Homo sapiens: one gene and its partners. The protein of the gene in region 1 interacts with the protein of each later gene in a biochemical or structural test. Each region holds a gene or a part of one and is shown in the gene's direction. Other genes may lie near its edges.

Region 1 (7,039 bases):
TTTTTTTATTGATCATTCTTGGGTGTTTCTCACAGAGGGGGATTTGGCAGGGTCATAGGACAATAGTGGAGGGAAGGTCAGCAGATAAACAAGTGAACAAAGGTCTCTGGTTTTCCTAGGCAGAGGACCCTGCGGCCTTCCGCAGCGTTTGTGTCCCTGGGTACTTGAGATTAGGGAGTGGTGATGACTCTTAATGAGCATGCTGCCTTCAAGCATCTGTTTAACAAAGCACATCTTGCACCGCCCTTAAGCCATTTAACTCTGAGTGGACACAGCACATGTTTCAGAGAGCACAGGGTTGGAGGTAAGGTCACAGATCAACAGGATCCCAAGGCAGAAGAATTTTTCTTAGTACAGAACAAAATGAAAAGTCTCCCATGTCTACTTCTTTCTACACAGACACGGCTACCATCCGATTTCTCAATCTTTTCCCCACCTTTCCCCCCTTTCTATTCCACAAAACCGCCATTGTCATCATGGCCCGTTCTCAATGAGCTGTTGGGCACACCTCCCAGACGGGGTGGTGGCTGGGCAGAGGGGCTCCTCACTTCCCAGTAGGGGCGGCCGGGCAGAGGCGCCCCTCACCTCCCGGATGGGGCGGCTGGCCAGGCGGGGGGCTGACCCCCCCACCTCCCTCCCGGACGGGGCGGCTGGCCGGGCAGAGGGGCTCCTCACTTCCCAGTAGGGGCGGCAGGGCAGAGGCGCCCCTCACCTCCCGGACAGGGCGGCTGGCCGGGTTGGGAGCTGACCCCTCCACCTCCCTCCCGGTCAGGGCGGCTGGCCGGGCCGGGGGCTGACCCCCACACCTCCCTCCCGGACGGGGCGGCTGGCCGGGCGGGGGGCTGACCCCCCCACCTCCCTCCCGGACGGGGCGGCTGGCTAGGCAGAGGGGCTCCTCACTTCCCAGTAGGGGCGGCCGGGCAGAGGCGCCCCTCACCTCCCGGACGGGGCGGCTGGCCAGGCGGGGGGCTGACCCCCCCACCTCCCTCCCGGACGGGGCGGCTGCCGGGCGGAGACGCTCCTCACTTCCCAGACGGGGTGGCTGCCAGGCAGAGAGGCTCCTCACTTCTCAGACGGGGCGGCTGCCGGGCGGAGAGGCTCCTCACTTCTCATACGGGGCGGCTGCCGGGCGGAGGGTCTCCTCACTTCTCAGACGGGGCGGCCGGGCAGAGACGCTCCTCACCTCCCAGACGGGGTGGCGGCCGGGCAGAGGCATTCCTCACATCCCAGACAGGGCGGCGGGGCAGAGGCGCTCCCCACATCCCAGACGACGGGCGGCCGGGCAGAGACGCTCCTCACTTCCTAGATGTGATGGCGGCCGGGAAGAGGCGCTCCTCACTTCCCAGATGGGATGGCGGCCGGGCAGAGACGGTCCTCACTTTCCAGACTGGGCAGCCAGGCAGAGGGGCTCCTCACATCCCAGACGATGGGCGGCCAGGCAGAGACGCTCCTCACTTCCCAGACGGGGTGGCGGCCGGGCAGAGGCTGCAATCTCGGCTTTTTGGGAGGCCAAGGCAGGCGGCTGGGAGGTGGAGGTTGTAGCGAGCCGAGATCACGCCACTGCACTCCAGCCTGGGCGCCATTGAGCACTGAGTGAACCAGACTCCGTCTGCAATCCCGGCACCTCGGGAGGCCGAGGCTGGCAGATCACTCGTGGTTAGGAGCTGGAGACCAGCCCGGCCATCACAGCGAAACCCCGTCTCCACCAAAAAAATACGAAAACCAGTCAGGCGTGGCGGCGCGCGCCTGCAATTGCAGGCACTCTGCAGGCTGAGGCAGGAGAATCAGGCAGGGAGGTTGCAGTGAGCCGAGATGGCAGCAGTATAGTCCAGCTTCGGCTCGGCATGAGAGGGAGACCATGGAAAGAGAGGGAGAGGGAGACCATGGGGAGAGGGAGACCATGGGGAGAGGGAGAGGGAGAGGGAGAGCAAAATCAGTATTTTTCTTAGTTACAGAGTGATTATACAGAAGATGCAACAGATACTAAACCTGATAGGGATATCGAGTTAGAGCTTTCAGCACTTGATACTGATGAACCTGATGGACAAAGTGAACCAATTGAAGTAAGTGCCACAATTAGATAATTGAGAGGCTTTGTTTGATTGAAAATTTATAAAATACTTTCATACTGAAGGATTAACATTTTATTTTCTTAGGAGATCTTGGACATACAGCTTGGTATCAGTTCTCAAAATGATCAGTTGCTAAATGGAATGGCAGTGGAAAATGGGCATCCAGTACAGCAGCACCAAAAGGAGCCACCAAAGCAGAAGAAACAGAGTTTAGGTGAAGACCATGTGATTCTGTGAGTGTTAGACAGAAAATTCATAAACAGTGGGCATAGGACATAATAAAGAGAAAAAAATGCGAAATTAATTTTTGGCTTTATGCTGTGAGGGGAAGACCTTATATGGGCAATGATTTGGTCAATCTGGATTTTTAGGGAAGAAAAAGTAAAATTGAACTAACAAAGCAGTCCATTTTGGTAGCCTGAAACTTGCTTTTTGTTGAGATAAAGTTAATCTGTGTTCCAGCATCAGGTTATGCTTCTTTAATCTGGTTGCCAAATTTCTAGACTACAAAATGGAGAATGACAACCTAGATTAATGGTTTCTCTTTTTGAAAATCATGTTAAGATTTTCTTGGCTAGGCTGGGCGTAGTGGCTCATGGCTGTAATCCCAGCACTTTGGAAGGCTGAGGCGGGTGGATCACAAGGAGTTCAAGAGCAGCCTGGCCAACATAGTGAAACCCTGTCTCTACAAAAATACAAAAAAATTAGCTGGGCATAGTGGCGGGCACCTGTATTCTCAGCTGCCTGGGAGGCTGAGGCAGGAGAATCGCTTGAACCCGGGAGGCGGAGACAGTGAGCCAAGATCGTGACACTGCACTCCAGCCTGGGCGACAGACTGAGACTCCATCTCAAAATTATCTATCTATCTATCTATCTATAGATAGATAGCATATAATATAGTATATTTTCTTGGCTATAATACTGCCATTTTGAATAATTACTGCCAAAAATATGGGCTTAATCTTCAACTTGGTAGTTTGGCCTTAAACTAACTAGTATTTTAATTTTTATCATAACTTTTGGAAAACAGGACTTTTCAAGCCAGGAGTGGTGGCTCACACCTGTAATCCCAGCACTTTGGGAGGCCGAGGCGGGTGGATCATTTGAGGTCAGGAGTTCTAGACCAGCCTGGCCAACATGGTGAAACCCCATCTCTACTAAAAATACAAAATAGCTGGGCGTGGTGGCACATGCCTGTAATCCCAGCTACTTGGGAGGCTGAGGCAGGAGAATTGCTTGAATCCAGGAGGCAGAGGTTGCATTGAGCCGAGATCATGCCACTGCACTCCAGCCTGGGCGACGGAGGGAGACTCTGTCTCAAAAATAGGAAAACAGGACTTTTCTAGTTACTTCTGATACTTCTAGTGATAAAGACATGTCTTTGCTAGAGACTCCTAAAGTTTGCTGTAGCTTTCATTAAATATGTATAGTCACCCTTAACAGTTTGCACTTAAAGCTAATTTGTTTTTAATGTCATTTCTTTTTTCTCAGGGAGGAGCAAAAAACAATTCTGCCGGTAACTTCTTGCTTTAGCCAGCCACTCCCAGTGTCTATTAGCAATGCAAGTTGCCTCCCCATCACCACATCTGTCAGTGCTGGCAACCTCATTCTGAAAACTCATGTTATGTCTGAAGATAAAAACGACTTTTTAAAACCTGTTGCAAATGGGAAGATGGTTAACAGCTGAAAGGAGGTTCATCTTTCAAATTTGTGACCACACCATGGAAGCATTTACACTAGCTTTTTATATATATAATATATATTATATAATGTATATTTTTTTTAAAAAAAAGATATTACTGGGGGCATCCATTTCCTGTGGACTCTTTGATACTTCAAGCCCTCTTGCATTAGCATTATGAAAAAAAAAAAGAAAATTTACTTTACTAGGGTAACATGTTCACTTTCCAGAAATGATTGGAATTTGGACAACATTTAACTTAAGCTTCAAGCAGCTTTTTATGAGTTTGTAGCAATCCGGTGCAGTAACTGAGCCATTTCCTATTTTAAATGGCTTCTATAGAAAATTAACAACTCAGTTATTAAACTAGCAGGATCCTACAATGATACATCTAGTGAAAGTAGACTTAGTTAACTTATTTATTTCTATTTTATGTTTCACTGAGAGAAGTTTCCATCTCATTCCAGCTGCTTTATTTATCTTTTTCATGGAACTTTGCATGGATTTCTTTTTCTTTTTTTAATTTTGAAGAGTGGAGTTAGATGTTCTTACCATAGAATTTTACAGGGTTATATACTAGCATTCTTTACTGCATTATATGTAGGAGTGTGGTGCAGTGCTTTTATCTGTAGCATATAATTTTTTTTTAATTTTCCATTTTTCAAGAGTAGTTTCTGCTTTGTTAATATTTATACACAGGCTACTTGTTGAAGTAATTAATTAAAAATATAACCAAGTGCCTAAGTCTTTCAGCTGATGTACTAGATATTAAATTCTCCTAAGTTATGCAGAATCGTTTTTACAATTTTGATAAATTATGCACTAATGTAATGGCAGTTTTTTAAAATGCAGATTTAAGCCTGTACATTATTGAATCTGATGACTTGGCAAAAGAATCAGGTGCTTTCAGCTTTCTTGAGAAAACCCTGTATGTAGCGTTTGCACTGACTAACAAGATGGTATTGCTGGGTTTTTAATTTAAACTAATTAATTTGGTTGTTCATTGCATTATCTTGGTTAAATATTGTTTATTGTTACTTCATGTTGGGGTTTAGTTTTTCTTGTTTTTTGACTGTTAGGTTGATAAGACTATGAACTGTGTAATAGTAGAACAGTGGCTAACATTTATTCATACTTAAGAACATGAATAATTTCTGCCTTGCTAAAATGTGACTGAAATGGTTTTGACTTGGCATCTGAAAGTATACAATGTGTTCAACAAGTCATGCATCAGATTTGTGGGAGGTATTGTACTGAAACCTAAATTTCAGTCAACATTTGAAAAGAAGAGCTGGGCATTCCTTCCTGGTGATCTTTACCTATAGTTTATCTATCTGTTTTTCTTCTGTTTCTTTAAGATTAGTTTGACTTTTATTATTATTTTTTTAATTAACTTCTGTGAAGTTGTTTACTCTGAAAATTGTACTGGAATATTTTAAGCCAAGCTGATCTTTCACCAGGTGTACTGTATGTAAGGGCTTTTCCTGCTAGCAAGATGCTTAAACAGGATCATGTTATTGGTCGTCTGAGCTATTTAGTTGTTTTACAAAACCACAGCATTGTATCAGATAAGATTTTGATAAAAAGTTTTGTGCACATTTCCAGGGGCGGGAGGGTTGACATTTCCCTGAAATTTCTTGATTAGAATGAGTAAATACTGGTGTTTGATACCTGTCTTAATGAACATGCTCATAAGGTGACTGATAAGTTGTAAATATACCTGAGAAACAAAGGGGTAGTTTTGATATTCTGGTGTCAGTATGGAAGATCTTACACATTTATTTAATACTCAAATGTATGAAGATGTTTGTTTGTAGCATAACAACAGCACAGTAGCCTTGACTTAGTTTCCTTTGGTTAGTACTGTACCTTTTTTGCCATGGCCAGTGCTCCCCATCCCTATGAAGACATTTTATTTATTTCACTCTGTAACCTGAAATGAATAGGAACAAGGGTTTTAAACCATGTTACATTAACTTTTCTGACATTATAAATTAGCCTAGAATATTACAGGAACATGATTGTTATATAATTTATATCAGAACCTTTCTATAAATATGTGCTTATTACATTTGAAATGCTTCCAATGTACTTTATTTGCTGTTTGTAATTCCAAAAAGGATATGCAAACCAGTCTGTCTATTTCATGGATATTTAATAGTGAGATCTTCCATGTTGAAGGTAATGTATTTTTTTTTAAGATTTTAAAATTGCTATTTTGTTACAAAATAGAGACCTATTAACAGTTTGAGAGCTCCTTATGTGCCCTCAGGGAAAGAACCCTCTGTGCAACAGAACTACACAAAACATCTTCAGCACGTTCTGAGGGTGAATATATACTACATAAATTGATCTTGTGTATTTAACCTTATCTTTTTAATTTTAAAATTGAAATTTTGAAACTTGGTTGTGCTCTGCTGGAGGGGGTTGGGATAAACTGCTTAGATGTTTGCCTACTTGTCCAGTGAAATTACATTTGCATCAGTATATGTATATACCTGCCAACCTTATTGGTATGTCTCAGAACATTTATATTAAAATAATGCTTGTCTTGCAGCAGGTGATCCCATAAAACAATAACTCCCTGTTCTTAAAAACTTACTCTCTTTTTCACTAACAACATAGGAATTGTTTCTGTGTTGAGATTATTCTGTGTTGCATCCATTCTCTATGTAGTGGTCACCTTCTGTCTGTCATGGTGGGCTTAATGTGAAGTAAAGCCATTGGTTCTCTGCCACTTTCGAAGAAAGGGCAGTTCATCTGATCCTTCTTCAGAATGGTACCTACTGATATCATCGAGGAAAATGTTACAAATCAGACCTAGGATATGACTTTTTAAAATTGAGGCATTTCCCGTCATTTGGCCTTTTTACCAACAAGATGTGATGTACAAATTTGGAATCAAAGGATACAAAGCAACAAGAGAGGAAATGTGTAATGTGGGTAACCAAACTGCATATGTTACCTATTGTCTAATCAGAAAAAATAGTCTGAGGTCTGGAAAGCAGGAAAGTGGTGGTTATTTTCTTTCATTTTTTGTGTTTTTGTTTTTTAATTTCTAAGTTCCATTCTGAAATCCATGTGCCGCATTCAGTTACTGTGGTTGTAGCATCAGTTTTTTTGTGGTTTCATTTCATTTTATGAATTCAGAGGAAGTTACATATATATTTTTTCTAGTTGGTACCTGAACAAAGCAGATTCCCTTGCCTTTGCTGCCACGTCTTATTTTCAATGCCATGTGATAAACCAGTGTCATACATGAAAGTTGTGCATTGTAATTTTCAAA
Region 2 (7,039 bases), on another chromosome or scaffold:
ATTTATTTTTATTTTTGTTTATTTTTTGAGACGGAGTCACGCTCTGTCGCCCAGGCTTGAGTGCGGTGGCGAGATCTTGGCTCACTGCAACCTCCACCTCCCAGGCTCAGACGATTCTCCTGCCTCAGCCTCCCAAGTAGCTGGGATTACAGTCATGCGCCACCACACCCAGCCAATTTTTGTATTTTTAGTAGAGACAGGGTTTCACCATGTTGCCCAGGCTGGTCTTGAACTCCTGACCTCAGATGATCTGCCTGTCTCGGCCTTCCAAAGTGCTGGGATTACAGGCGTGAGCCACCGCACCCGGCCTCACGTGCATTTTTAAAGTGGTAAAAATGTTCTTAACCCATTTGTCAATTGTGGTCGACGTTGAAAAATGTACTTTGAAGTTCAGTCTACGTATTTTATATCTTCTAGGGGCCCAGAAGACACCTGCTTTGAGTTTGGTGTTTTTCCTGCCATCCTGAGTTTCCCACTTGATTACCCGTTAAGTCCCCCAAAGATGAGATTTACCTGTGAGATGTTTCATCCCAACAGTAAGTGCTTTTGGAAGTAGTTTTTGTGGTACCAGGATAGGTACGGAGATAATATTATCAGCCACCTGAAATGTGGTATATTCTATATGTCTATGATGTAGATCTTTAGAAAACACTTCTTATGTTTTGAAATTCAGCCAAGTAAGCATGGTGGTATTAAGCACATGATTTCAATTTTGAAGGTCAGTTTAATATAGATAAAAGACAACAGGCACCTAAAACCGGATGCCATTTGACCCAGCCACCCTACTTCACTGGGGAGGAAGTTTTACACATGGGTGTGTGCTCAGAAGGGGTTATGCTAATCTTTGTCATAGTGTTATTTGTAATGGTGAAAATTTTGACTTAACCTGGGTTTTTAACACAAGAATAAATTAAGTTATATATTGTATTAGTCTGTTGTCACGCTGCTAATAAAGACATATTCAAGTCTGGGTAATTTATAAAGGAAAGAGATTTAATGGACTCACAGTTCCACATGGCTGGGGAGACCTCACAATCATGGCAGAAGGCAAAGGAGAAGCAAAGGCACATCTTAGTGGCGGCAGGCAAGAGAGTGTGTGCAGGGGAACTGCCCTTTACGGAACCATCAGATCTCGTGAGACTTGTACACTATCACGAGAACAGCACGGGAAAGATGTGCCTCCATGATTCAGTACTTCCCACTGGGTCCCTCCCATGACATGTGGGAATTATGGGAGCTACAATTCAAGATGAGATTTGGGTGGGGACACACCCAAACTATATCATATATGTTAGAATGTGATGTAGATTTTTTAAATGATCTAAAAGAAGAATCAATGATACAAAGTAGTATTTGTGTTATATTGACTGGGAAAAGCAGTAGCACTGTTATAATTTCCTCTTGAAAAAGAAATTCACATGTAAATGTATATATAACTGGAAAAGTAAGCACAAAAATGTTAAAAGTGATTCTTTTTTCAGATTGAAATTTTTTTTCCTTTTTGTAAATCTTTTTTTGCCCTAAAATTAATATATATTAATTTTAAAAGGAGGAAAAAAATAAGGTCATTTAAGTGAATTGTACTGTAGCTTATTTGAAAATGTGTCCAGTAGTAGGAATTGGAATTTCTGAACAGCTGTAGTTTTTATTTTTTCCTTTTACATTCTTCCTTTTACATCTTTGCCATAGGGGTTTTCAGGACTACCCCCCCACCCCCGGCCACTTCACTGGTGGAAATGCCGTCTGCCAATAGACTTGCTGTCCTAACCCTCGTTTAGGACTTCTCATTTACTGCAGATATTGGTACACATAGGTAGTGGGCGGCTGCCTGAGAGAGACCATTTGGTACTTCTTTTCTTATCTCAAAGCTGCTTCAGTCTTGTGTGCACAGGGGATGCTCAGAAGCGTGCCTTCTTTCAGGGAGACTGGCCATGCGCCTGAGTTAGATGATAACATGGAGGTTCATCACACGCTGTCTACTTGAGTGTGTTTTTGGAATTCTCCATAATAAAAAGTTAAAAAATACAATTGATAGGTAAGAGTAATTGAAGTAGTTTCAAATTGGTTAGCTATAAAATGCAACTATGAAGAGGATTGTAGGTAATTAAAATACTAAGATTGTATTGAGGAGAAATATATTATTCAGAACAATACCTGTGACATGGCATTAGTGACAAATATGACCAATAAACTGATTACCTTATGTGACTATGTACTACAGGTGGTCTGATTATTATTTTTAATGTTCTGGTAATTATTTTTAATGCTCAGATAATATAAATTTTTGCCTTACTGTAATTGGATTATTTTGATTTTTTAAAAATTATCTTTGAGAACTATAGGTCTACCAATATCATAAAAACTAGTCAATAAATACTTTAAAAACAATTCAACACACGTACTGAAAGTTGCTGGTATACAGTGGTGAGCAAATAATAGCAGACCTTCAGGAGCTTATATTCCAAGGACAGGGATGGACATTGATAGGAGAATCACACAAACAAAATGCAAAGTCACATCAGGAAGTTCTGGGCAGCACCTTGCAGAGGTGGTGGTTGGATGGACCATCTGTAGGGAGTGAAGCAGGAGTTACCTGAGTGATTCGGGGAGGAGGGGCCCTTCACATGTGCAAAGGCCCAGCGCAGGAAGTGACGGGAGAGGAAGGCCGGGGCCAAACTACCTCAGGCCTTTTGGTCAATACTGAAGGTTTTGATGTTTTCTCCTGGGAGTGGCGGAACTCCATTGAAAGACTCCAAGGGAGTGGCATGACCAGAATGATCTCTGACGGCTCGCTCTGGGTACAGTGCAAAGGACAGGTGGGAGGAAGCCAGGCAGGCCCTCGGCTGTAGTGGTCTAGGGTAGAGACACCGGCAACTTGGGAACTAAATGTGGGCACTAAAGATAAAGAGATGTGTGTGGATCCACGAGAGGTTTAGGACATGGCACTGCTGGGACTTGGTGAAGGAGGGGCTGTGGCAGGGACACAGGTGCTTTTGATGCTTCTGTGGATGCAGTGTCACCCTATGGGACCAACTCCTGGAGAAGGCAACACAGAAGTGGGAAACTTCCTGATTTTGTGGATGTGGATCTTAGGTGGACAGCCTGATGTCCAGGGCAAGTATGCATCTAGTTTCTTCCACTCTCCTTGAATGAGAAGTTGTGGTTCAGTTCCTGGATAGTAGAGCGTTCACCACTGAACGTTCACCACTGAAACAATGGATGAGTGGAAACACATAGGACCAGGTATGAAAGACAAGACTGTTTGAAGGTAAGTGATCGCCATTCACATTTGTGAATTTTCATGAAATTCAGAGCTTATTAACTCAGGTGAGTTAAATAAATGTATTTTAAAATTGCTATTTCTATTATTATAACTTTAATGGCTTTATAATTTTACAGTTGAGTCTATCTAGATGGATTACTGCATATCTGAGTATATATGGAGCCATCTGAGAATTCCTCCCAATTTTATGTAAAAGAGGACTGATTAAATGCTGTGAATTGAAAATTTATTTCTCTTTATCAGACCTTGTGTATCTTTTTAATGATGATATTTGGTGGAAAGGGATTTGATTTAGACACATTGACCTACATTCCAGGTTGTACTGATGATAATTTACTTATTATTAGAGTAAGCTACCAAGAGAAATCCTGGTGCCTTTCTTTTTGTAGATATTTACATAATTCCAGTTGCCTTTATCATAGCCATGTGAACATATATTTTACACAGACCGGTTCAGGGATTTAATGATAGAATTAGAAATAGCTAAGGAACTAGCTCTGAAAAGTATTGTAAATAATCCTAATCACATTAGATATTTTGATAAAATATTTGCCAGATAACCTTTCATTTAGTCTTTTTGTATATATTGCTTGAAAAAAATTCATATGAAAGTGGATTAGACTACGACAGCTGATTAGAACTGGCTGGGTCAGCCTGGAGCCTGTCAGTGAGTGAGCAGGCCCCACCGGGATTCCTGCAGACATGAAGCGTGACACTCAGGGCCCCAGGCTATGCCCCAGCTGTGCAAACAGCTTGGTTGCTGTGTCTGCAGTCTTTGTTCTCATTATCTGTGGAGCCTGCCCAAGCGCGGCGATGCCTCGGGCACCATTCCTGGGCTCACTTGGCTGCCTCTGACCCTTGCAGTCTACCCTGATGGGAGAGTCTGCATTTCCATCCTCCACGCGCCAGGCGATGACCCCATGGGCTACGAGAGCAGCGCGGAGCGGTGGAGTCCTGTGCAGAGTGTGGAGAAGATCCTGCTGTCGGTGGTGAGCATGCTGGCAGGTAAGGCCCGAGCCTCCTGGCAGGAGCTGCCGTGGACACCCAGGCTGCAGGTGTTCTCCAGCCTTGCGTCATCCTGTCTTTAGAATGTCCTTTTCCTCATTTGCAGTTAGTTTACACATGCTATTGCCATTTAATGTTATCTGCCTACACTTTTCCAATTGTAAGCATACCTTCTAGCATAGCCTGGGGTTGTATATTGTATTGTCGGCCATAATTAACTGGTCTCTGGTCCTTGATCGTCTTTTTCCCTCAGTAGGTGTTTATTGAGGACCCACTACATGCCACACACTGGACTGGGGGTGTAAAGCTTCGTGTGACAAAGACCCCAACTCTTTGTTCCTACGTTCTAGGGAACTGTCCAAGCCTACCAGCAGTTAGAGGCCAGTGGGATGCACCCTAAGATCAGACACATGCAGGGACTCTCGGGCCACTTCCTGGTGGGGCTGTCTGGGGTGTGTTTAGGACATGTAGGTGTTGATGAGGTAGGAGGGAGGGAATGGGGTTTTGGGGCAAAGGAAGCAGCCTGGGCTGAGGCCCAGAGGCAGGAGGTGGCTGACTTGATGGGGGCACTGCCAGCTCATTTTGGCTGGAGCCAAGGCTGCAGGGAGAGGAGCCCCAGCAGACCCTGGGGATTGGAGTTGGGGGTGTGATGTCCTGTGAGCTGTGCCTTCGAAGGGCCATCCTTGCAGCAGTAACCAATAGTGTGATGGAAGACAAACAGAGACATCGTGGTGTTGCAGTAGCCTGGAGAGAAAAGAGAAGGGCTGAGTGGTCCCAGGGCTAAGAGGAAGGGGTGGGTTTGGGAGACCTTGAAGGTACAGGCTCTGGGACTCCTGGTTCTTTGTCTACCAGAGGTGCTGCTCTGGGTTCAGGAGACAGCAGGATTTGGGGAATAGTTTGAGGTGTGTGGGACAAGGGGCCTCCATCCACAAAAGGGGGTCAGACACGAGAGTGAAGATGTGGGGTCATTTCTGGATGAGGCAGTAGGTGATGGAGTAGGACGGAGGGTGACAGCATAGCAGGGAGGGGTCTTCCAGGGCAGTCAGGAGGAAGGGTGTGGGAAAGGAAGGCGGCAAGTCCGAAAGGAAAGAGCAGACCCAGCAGAGGGCCAGGGGTCGATGCCAGAGTGAGGCCACTCAGCTATTCTCTGCAGAGCCTTTGGGTGCCGTGGAGTGGGGTCTAGAGGGATGTGAGGTCAGGGCCTGTGACGCGAGTGTGTATCCTGAGAGGGCTGAGGCGTGAACCCTCTTCATGTGCTGAGTGGAGGGAGCCAGGCCAGGGGATTGGAGATTGGGAGGGAGGCAGTGGCTCAGGCTGTCCTCAGATGTCAGCTGTGGGTTTTATCCTCATCAACTCTGCTCTGAACCGGTCCCCACGTGCATTCTGAGCAGCGCCACCGCCGCACTGCACAGCTGCTGCCTCAGCACATGTCATCCAGTTCTGGTGGTCTCTCTCCGTTCTGCCTTCCGGCAGGCCCTGGCTACTCCCTCCGTGCCTCCTAACTGCAGTTCTGCAGTGACTGCCAGTGCCGCTGGCTAGGGGGTGGGTCAGGTATCCTGGGGTCAGGTGTCTACCTTAGGCTGCACATTTGCTTGGGATTGTCTTGGTAGGAGCTGTGAGGGGCAGTTTTGCTGAGAGGGCGCTCTGTGAGAGAGAAGCCACACTGCAGAGTGTCTTGAGAAAGGTGAAATAAGCAGCAGGTGGTCCCCGTGTAGCTTGTCCGGGTGCCAGAAGTGCAGTGGCCCAGGAGGCTGCTGTGGGAGGCCGTGTGGGCCTGTGCTTAGGTGGTTGTCGCATGTTCCACAGCAAGACAGATGACAACTTGTCCTGGTGTCTTCAGACACTCAGAACGCAGGAGTCATGAGAGTGGCTTTCGTTGAGACCTGCGTGGCCAGCACTCTAGAGGTGGGGCCGACCCCATGCAGTTCTCAGGTTCTTTGTTTCTGGGACACAGCTCTTGAAAGCCCCCGCCAGTGTTTTAAATAAATGGGAGACCTTGCCAGGCTGCTTACGTATAAGACTCCCTTTTACATGGAGGGTGTTCCCTTTTCTTTCAGAGCCCAATGACGAAAGTGGAGCTAACGTGGATGCGTCCAAAATGTGGCGCGATGACCGGGAGCAGTTCTATAAGATTGCCAAGCAGATCGTCCAGAAGTCTCTGGGACTGTGAGACCTGGCCTCGCACAGGCGCGCACACACCGCCAAGCAGCTCAGCATTCTCCCCCGGCACACTTAGTGACAGTGATGCTCTGTGCTGGTACCAAACAAGGCAGACTTGCAAGAACCATGGCATCTTTTTTTTTTTTCAAACCTTTCCTACTTCAAACAGGCTTCTCTTCTGAAATGATGACTTAATGTCGAATATTGACAGCTTACTGCAGTTTTACAGTATTCCTCACAAAGGGCTTCAGGTAGATTATCAGAGCTGTCAGCACTACCTCTCCCCGCTGAAACCAGCAGTTCATGGCTTCCTGTGGATTCCCTCCCTCCCTGGAGTGTTGAGGGGGTTGTACCTGCCAGACTTCCAGGGGACGATGGAATACCCAGAACGCTCCTTCTGAAGAAATGGGGCCCTGTAGCTGCAGCACAGGGGAAGGGCCCGGCACCCTTTCTGGGTCCTTCCTGGTTCCCTGTGGGCCCCATGAGGAGTCCATTACTTCCTTTCTTCCTTCATATTTTACAGGCAGATGCTTTTCTTATAATCTAATTACATCTTTTCATTTGTTATATATTACAAACCATCACACTTAG
Region 3 (7,039 bases), on another chromosome or scaffold:
GGCCATTTTTTCCAGCCTTTAGCTATGTTTCTGTAGCTAGACTCTTACAAAGCTTCCAAATTTGAGGTCAAGTTGTTTTAATAACTCCTGAATTAAAAGTAATACATGGTCGGGCATGGTGGCTCATACCTATAAACTCAGCACTTTGGGAGGCCAAGGTGGGCGGATCACCTGAGGTCAGGAGTTTGAGACCAGCCCGGCCAACATGGTGAAACCCCATCACTACTAAAAATACAAAAATTAGTCAGGCATGATGGTGGGCACCTGTAATCTCAGCTACTCAGGAGGCTGAGACAGGAGAATCACTTGAACCTGGGAGACGGAGGTTGCAGTGAGCTGAGCTCACAACACTGCACTTCAGCCTGGGTGACAAACCAAGACTCTGTCTCCAAAAAAACAAAGGTAATATGTAAGCCAGGCACAGTGGTGCACACCTGTAGTCCCAGCTACTCCAGAGGCTAAGGCAGGAGGGTGGCTTGAGGCCAGCCTAGGTAACATAGTAAGATCCTGTCTCTACTAAAAGAAATAGATAAAAGTATTATCTATTTATTTGTGGAATTGTGAAAAATAAGAAAAATCTGTTGGCTAAAATTAAGCTTTTCAAAAATACAATTTTGGCCAGGCGTGGTGGTTCATACCTATAATCCCAGCACCTTGGGAGGCCAAGGTGGGAAGGTTGCTTGAGACCAGGAGTCAGAGACCAGCCTGGGCAACATAGCGAGGTCCCATCCCTATAAAAAACAAAAAAAATATCAAGGCATGGTGGCGCACACCTGTAGTCTCAGCTACTTATGGAGGCTGAGGTGAGAGGATCACTTGAGCCCAGGAGGTCAAGGCTGCAGTGAGCCATGACTGTGCCACTGCACTCTAGCCTGGGCAACAGAGCAAGATTCTATCTCAAAAGTACAATTTTGCATATACAAAGTTGGAGTCAATGACCACACACAGTGGTTCATGCCTATTAATTCCAGCACTTTGGAAGGCTGAGGAGGGTGGATTGCTTGAGCCCAGGAGTTCAAGACCAGCTTAGGCAACATGGTGAAACCCTGTCTCTACAAAAAATACAAAAATTAGCTGGGCACAGTGGTGCGTACCTGTATTCCCAGCTACTAGGGAGGCCGAGGTGGGAGAATTGCTGGAGCCTGGGAGGTTGAGGCTGTAGCAAGCCATGATTGTGCCACCGCTCTCCATCCTGGGTGACAAAGCAAGACCCTATCTCAAAAAAAAAAAAGAAAATTGGGATGTTATATATAAAATAAGGTGTTTTTTTTGGTTTGTTTGTTTTTGTTTTTTTAATATACTGTGAACATTTTCCTTAATAAATATTCTGGGCTGAGTGCAGTGGCTCACGCCTGTAATCCTAGCACTTTGGGAGGCCAAGGCAGGTGGATCATGAGGTCAAGAGATCAAGACCATCCTGGTCAACGTGGTGAAACCTCATCTCTACCAAAAATACAAAAATTAGCTGGGCATGGTGGCGCATGCCTGTGGTCCCAGCTACTCGGGAGGCTGAGGCGGGAGAATTGCTTGAACCCGGGAGGCGGAGGTTTCAGTGAGCCAAGATCGCGCCACTGCACTCCAGCCTGGCAACAGAGCAAGACTCCATCTCAAAAAAATAAATATTCTGATACATCATTTTTAATGGCAAAATGTTCTGTTACATAGATTTATCATATTTTTAACCAGTGTCCAATTGTTGATAGTTTTCAGTTGTTTACAATTTTAAATAGCACTTTGAACATTCTTAAAAATCTTAAAAATTTTTTTGTTGTTGAGAAAAACACTTGCTGTGTCACACAGGCTGGAGTACAGTCGTGTGATCTCGACTCATCGCAACCATTACCTCCCGGGTTCAAGTGATTCTCTTGCCTCAGCCTCCTGAGTAGCTGGGACTGCAGATGTGTGCCACCATACCCAGCTTTTTTTTTTTTTTTTTTTTTTTTTTTGAGACAGAGTCTTGCTCTATCGGCCAGGCTGGAGTGCAGTGGCATGATCTCGGCTCACGGCAACCTCTGCCTGTTGGGTTCAAGTGATTCTCTTGCCTCAGCCTCCCAAAGCTGTATATCCAGCTAATTTTTATATTTTTAGTAGAGACGGGGTTTCACCATGTTGGCCAGGCTGGTTTTGAACTCCTGACCTCAGGTGATCCGCCTGCCTTGGCCTCCCAAATGTTGGGATTACAGGTGTGAGCCACCGTGCCCGGCCTCAAAATAAATCTTTTCAGATACTAATTATTATTTTGATTGAGTTTTTTGTTTGTTTTTTTAATTGCTGCATAACAACTAGACTAAGTTTTTTAAACGTGGGGATTACTGGGTCAGAGGCTTGTGTGTTTTTAAAGCTTTTAATGTCATTTTCCATTTTTTTCCTTCAGTGGAATTGTTCTCATTTTCACTTCATAGAGTAGTTTGTTACTATTCTTCACTAAACGATGGCTAATTCCTTTGTAATAAATTTGGTCTTCCTTGACATCTTGCTGTTTACATCTATTACATTTATATTTCTGTATTATAAATTACCATGTGAAAGACTTCTCCAAATTCTTGAAGCTCCTCTTCAGTCTCACAGCCTTTGCTCATTTAAATGTGGCGTTCCCCATCAGCCAACTCACTTTCAGGAAGAACATTTTCAGAGGTCCTCTTGGTCGTGTCTCTAGTACTGCAGAATACATTATAGAGCTCCCTACCCAGAGGAGAGATGTGTTTCGTTTGTGTCTGGAATCAAGGTGACTTTCCAGTAATAGATACTACCTTTGGCACTTCATTTCTGTGAAGTTGCTTTTTCCTTCTAGCTGCCTTTTTTGCTTTTTTTTTTGTCCAAGACAGGTTTAATTTTATTTTCTGTTTCTCTTTTTGGGGAAGTTCCCAGGTCATTTACCATTTATTCCACTGTAGCTTTATCTTGCTTAGACTTGTTATTGAGTCAAACCAAACCAATTATGATAAGGGGGTCTTTAAATAAAGGTGGGAAAGACTGTAGAATGAGTAAGGGATATAAATATAGGGTTATCACTTAAGCAAATTTTTAAGAAACCACAGTGTATTTGGTTTTCACATCTCTTCATATTTATAGCATGGTTTCCCTTTTATTCTGCTGAGTACTTTTTTATAATTTAACTTTCTGGTTTATTTTTTTAAAAACATTTATTGAAATATAATTTACACACCAAGCTGTTGACCCACTTAAATTGTACAACTCAAATGGTTTTTAGCATAATCATAACCATCACCATGACCACTTTAAAAACAACAAAAAGCCCCATAACTATTATCTTAGCAGTCAACTCTGTTTGTCTTAACCCTCCCCGCTTCAGTCCTAGGTAAGTGTTACCCCTAACGTGTTTTCCCTCTAGATTTGACTATTCTGGATATTTCATATAAATGGAATCTTATACTATGTGGTCCTTTGTGACTGACTTCTGTCACCCAGCATAAAGTTTTCAAGGCTCATCTATGTTGTGATATAATAGTATCTGTGATTCATTTTTTATTGTTGAATAATATTCCACTGTATGGATATTCTGTATTTTGTTCATTAGTTGATAAGATATTTGAGTTCTGATTTACTTTTGGATTCTCAGAAATAGTTACTCAGAACTTTAAAATTGTTTTACACTTTTATGGGTTTTACAGAGTTACTAATTTTTGCTTTGGGCAGCTAAGTTTGATGTTTCTGTGGGATGGACAGTAAGTTGGCTTTGAAGCTGAGAGATAGATCTAGGCTAAGGCCAATGATTGGGAATACTGAGCACATGGATGGTAACTGAGGCCACAGGAGTCAATAGGATTGCCCAGTGTGTGTGTAAAGGGTAAGAAGGAAAAGGGCTTAGGATAGAGTCTGGAAGAATCACAGTGTTTAAGTGTGATTTGCTCCCCACTCTCTGTTATGGTTTGCTCCATGAAATGGTATCTGTAACATTTAAATGAATTTACTCTTTGTTTTACATAGCAGTTCACTTCTAGAAATTTTTTCTACAGATAGTCTCACAATTGGGCAAATACTTAACGTTCATTGCTTGTATTTTCACAGAATCAGTCTAAAAAGGGAAGAACCCTCCCAGATGTTCAGGACTTTTGATACCTGTTAGTCACTTGATTTTTTTTTTTAATGAAAGGAATATGTATACTCATTGCACAAATAAATCATAAACACAAGGAAGGATAAAGAAAATAAGATAGGCCAGGCACGGTGGCCCACGCCTGTAGTCCCAGCACTTTGGGAGGCTGAGGCAGGTGGATCACGAGGTCAGGACTTCGAGACTAGCCTGGCCAGCATAGTGAAACCCCGTCTTTACTAAAAATATAAAAAATTATCCAAGCATGGTGATGTGTGCCTGTAATCCCACCTACTTGGGAGGCTGAGGCAGGAGAATTGCTTGAACCCAGGAGGCGGAGGTTGCAGTGAGCCGAGATCACGCCACTGCACTCCAGCCTGGGTGACAGAGCGAGACTCCATCTCAAAAAAAAAGAAAAAGAAAAGAGGATCATCTGCTGGGGGCGCTGTGGCTCACACCTGTAATCCCAGCACTTTGGGAGACCGAGGTGGGCAGATCACCTGAGGTCAGGAATTCGAGACTAGCCTGGCCAACATGGTAAAACCCCATCTCTACTAAAAATACAAAAATTAGCTGGGTCGTGGTTGTACATGCCTGTGATCCCAGCTACTCGGGAGGCTGAGGCAGGAGTATTGCTTGAACCCAGGAGGTGGAGGTTGCAGTGAGCCGAGTTCTCACCACTGCACTCCAGCCTGGACAACAGACTGAGAATCCATCTCAAAAAAAGAAAAAAAAAAAGGGCCGGGCACAGTGGCTCATGCTTGTAATCCCAGCACTTTGGGAGGCCGAGGCAGGTGGATCACCTGAGGTCAGGAGTTCGAGACCAGCCTGGCCAACATATGGCAAAACCCCGTCTCTACTAAAAATGCAAAAATTAGCTGGGCGTGGTGGTGGGCACCTGTAATCCCAACTACGTGGGAGGCTGAGGCAGCAGAATCCCTTGAACCTGGGAGGCGGAGCTTGCAGTGAGTTGAGATTGCACCATTGCACTCCATCCTGGGCAACAAGAGCGAAACTCCATCTCAAAAAAAAAAAAGGAAAAGAAAATAAGATCATCCATAACCCTACTATTACAAATATCCACTACTTACATTTTGACATTCGGTCTTAGAAATGTTTTTTGACTACATATACTTTAAATGAATTTATATAAAACTTTTTAATCAAAATAGGAAATTATAAATAATTAAAAACTTATTTTTAAGGTAATAGTCTGTGGATGTCTTACTCTATAAACAGTAGATATGTATCATTTCTGGTGATTGTGTTGCTATTGCTTATATGAATGTATCAGTTGTTTATTTAGCCAGTTCCCTCTTTTATGGACCACAAGGTAGAATTAGTTTTTCACTTTTTTTTTTTTTTTTTTAAGATAGAGTCTCGCTCTGTCGCCCAGGCTGGAGTGCAGTGGCGTGATCTGAGCTCACTGCAACCTCTGCCTCCTGGGTTCAAGCAATTCTTCTGCCTCAGCCTCCTGAGTAGCTGGGACTACACGCATGCACTACCATGCCTGGCTAATTTTTGTATTTTTAGTAGAGACAGGGTTTCACCATGCTGGCCAGGCTGGTCTCGAACTCATGACCTCATGATCCACCCGCCTCGGCCTCCCAAAGTGCTGGGATTATGGGTGTGAGCCACTGCGCCTGGCCTTCTACTCTTATAAGTAGTATTATAGTGAACATCCTGTAAGTAAATCTTTGTGCATGTCCACGTTTATTTCCTTAATTTCTAGGAGTGTAATTGCTATGTCAAAAATAAGCAGTTTTTTAAAAGCTTTAAGAATATTTAGAAATACGGAATTTAAATAGATTGCTAAATGATGTGTGTTGAAGAAATTTAACTCAAAGCCTCCTGATCATAACATGCTGTCTTAGTTCATTTTCTGCTACAACAGAATAGCAGGGACTGATAATTTGTAAATTTGTAAATAATAGTAGTTTGTTTGGCTCATGGTTCTGGAGACTGGGCAGTCCAAGAGCATGGCGCCAGCACCTAAGCAAGGTCCTTGGTGCTGTGACATCCCATGGTGGAAGGCAGAATGACAAGTGAGCACACAAGACATAAGAAAAGGTGCCAAACTCATCCTTTTATCTGGAGTACACTCCTGCCCTGAGCACTCATGACCTAAGCACTTCTTAAAGGTCCCACTTCTCAACAGTGTTACAATGGCAATTAATTTTTTTTTATTTAATTTTTTTACTTTTATTTTTTTGAGACAGGTTCTTACCCTGTCATCCAGGCTGGAGTGCAGTGGTGTGATCTCAGCTCACTGCAACCCCTGCCTCCTGGGTTCAAGCGATTCTCCTGCCTCAGCCTTCCAAGTAGCTGGGATTACAGGCATGTGCCACCATGCCCGGCTAATTTTTATAATTTTAGTAGAGATGGGGTTTCACTGTGTTGGCCCGACTGGTCTCAGACTCCTGACCTCAAGCAATCCTGCCTGCCTCGGCCTCCCAAAGTGTTCAGGACTGGCGTGAGCCACCGTGCCCAGCCTCCAGCAATTACATTTCAACATGAGATTTGGAGGGAACATTCAAACCATAGCAGGTGCAAAATAAGAGACCTTAGTTTTAAGACAGGTTATCCTGTGATACAGAAGAATTTAGTTATTACCTAATATTTAAAACTTCTAAGCCAAGCATTCTGTTTGGTAAAGATTTCTCTTAACTGTTAGATATGGCAGAGTGTGTAACTAATTTTAGTATTGTCTTTGCAGTGTATGCTGATGGTAGCATATGTTTAGATATCCTTCAGAATCGATGGAGTCCAACATATGATGTATCTTCTATCTTAACATCAATTCAGGTAAGTGTGTGTTAGGATGTATTATAATTTGTCAGTATTCTGTAGGATATAGTCAGCTCCTTAGCACACAGGTAACCAATGGCAGAGCTTGGACAAGAATCCATGCTTTTCAGCTAACTTTTCTCTTTCAGTAGTGCCTACTTGGGATCCAGTCTGCAGTCCCTTTCCTGATTGTGTAAG

What was found.
Region 2: the proteins of RC3H2 (region 1) and UBE2G2 form a complex in vitro, tested with the Homo sapiens proteins (one study listed by BioGRID).
Region 3: the proteins of RC3H2 (region 1) and UBE2B form a complex in vitro, tested with the Homo sapiens proteins (one study listed by BioGRID).

What each region holds. Positions count from the first base shown.
Region 1 is NC_000009.12:122,846,347-122,853,385, reverse strand, and holds part of RC3H2 (roquin-2), read left to right. Parts: intron 1-1,949; coding exon 1,950-2,063; intron 2,064-2,156; coding exon 2,157-2,305; intron 2,306-3,563; coding exon 3,564-3,759; 3' UTR 3,760-7,039. UniProt on the Homo sapiens protein: Post-transcriptional repressor of mRNAs containing a conserved stem loop motif, called constitutive decay element (CDE), which is often located in the 3'-UTR, as in HMGXB3, ICOS, IER3, NFKBID, NFKBIZ, PPP1R10, TNF and in many more mRNAs.
Region 2 is NC_000021.9:44,770,796-44,777,834, reverse strand, and holds part of UBE2G2 (ubiquitin-conjugating enzyme E2 G2), read left to right. Parts: intron 1-417; coding exon 418-536; intron 537-4,147; coding exon 4,148-4,288; intron 4,289-6,345; coding exon 6,346-6,458; 3' UTR 6,459-7,039. UniProt on the Homo sapiens protein: Accepts ubiquitin from the E1 complex and catalyzes its covalent attachment to other proteins. In vitro catalyzes 'Lys-48'-linked polyubiquitination. Involved in endoplasmic reticulum-associated degradation (ERAD).
Region 3 is NC_000005.10:134,381,555-134,388,593, forward strand, and holds part of UBE2B (ubiquitin-conjugating enzyme E2 B), read left to right. Parts: intron 1-6,770; coding exon 6,771-6,859; intron 6,860-7,039. UniProt on the Homo sapiens protein: E2 ubiquitin-conjugating enzyme that accepts ubiquitin from the ubiquitin-activating enzyme E1 and transfers it to a E3 ubiquitin-protein ligase. In vitro catalyzes 'Lys-11'-, as well as 'Lys-48'- and 'Lys-63'-linked polyubiquitination.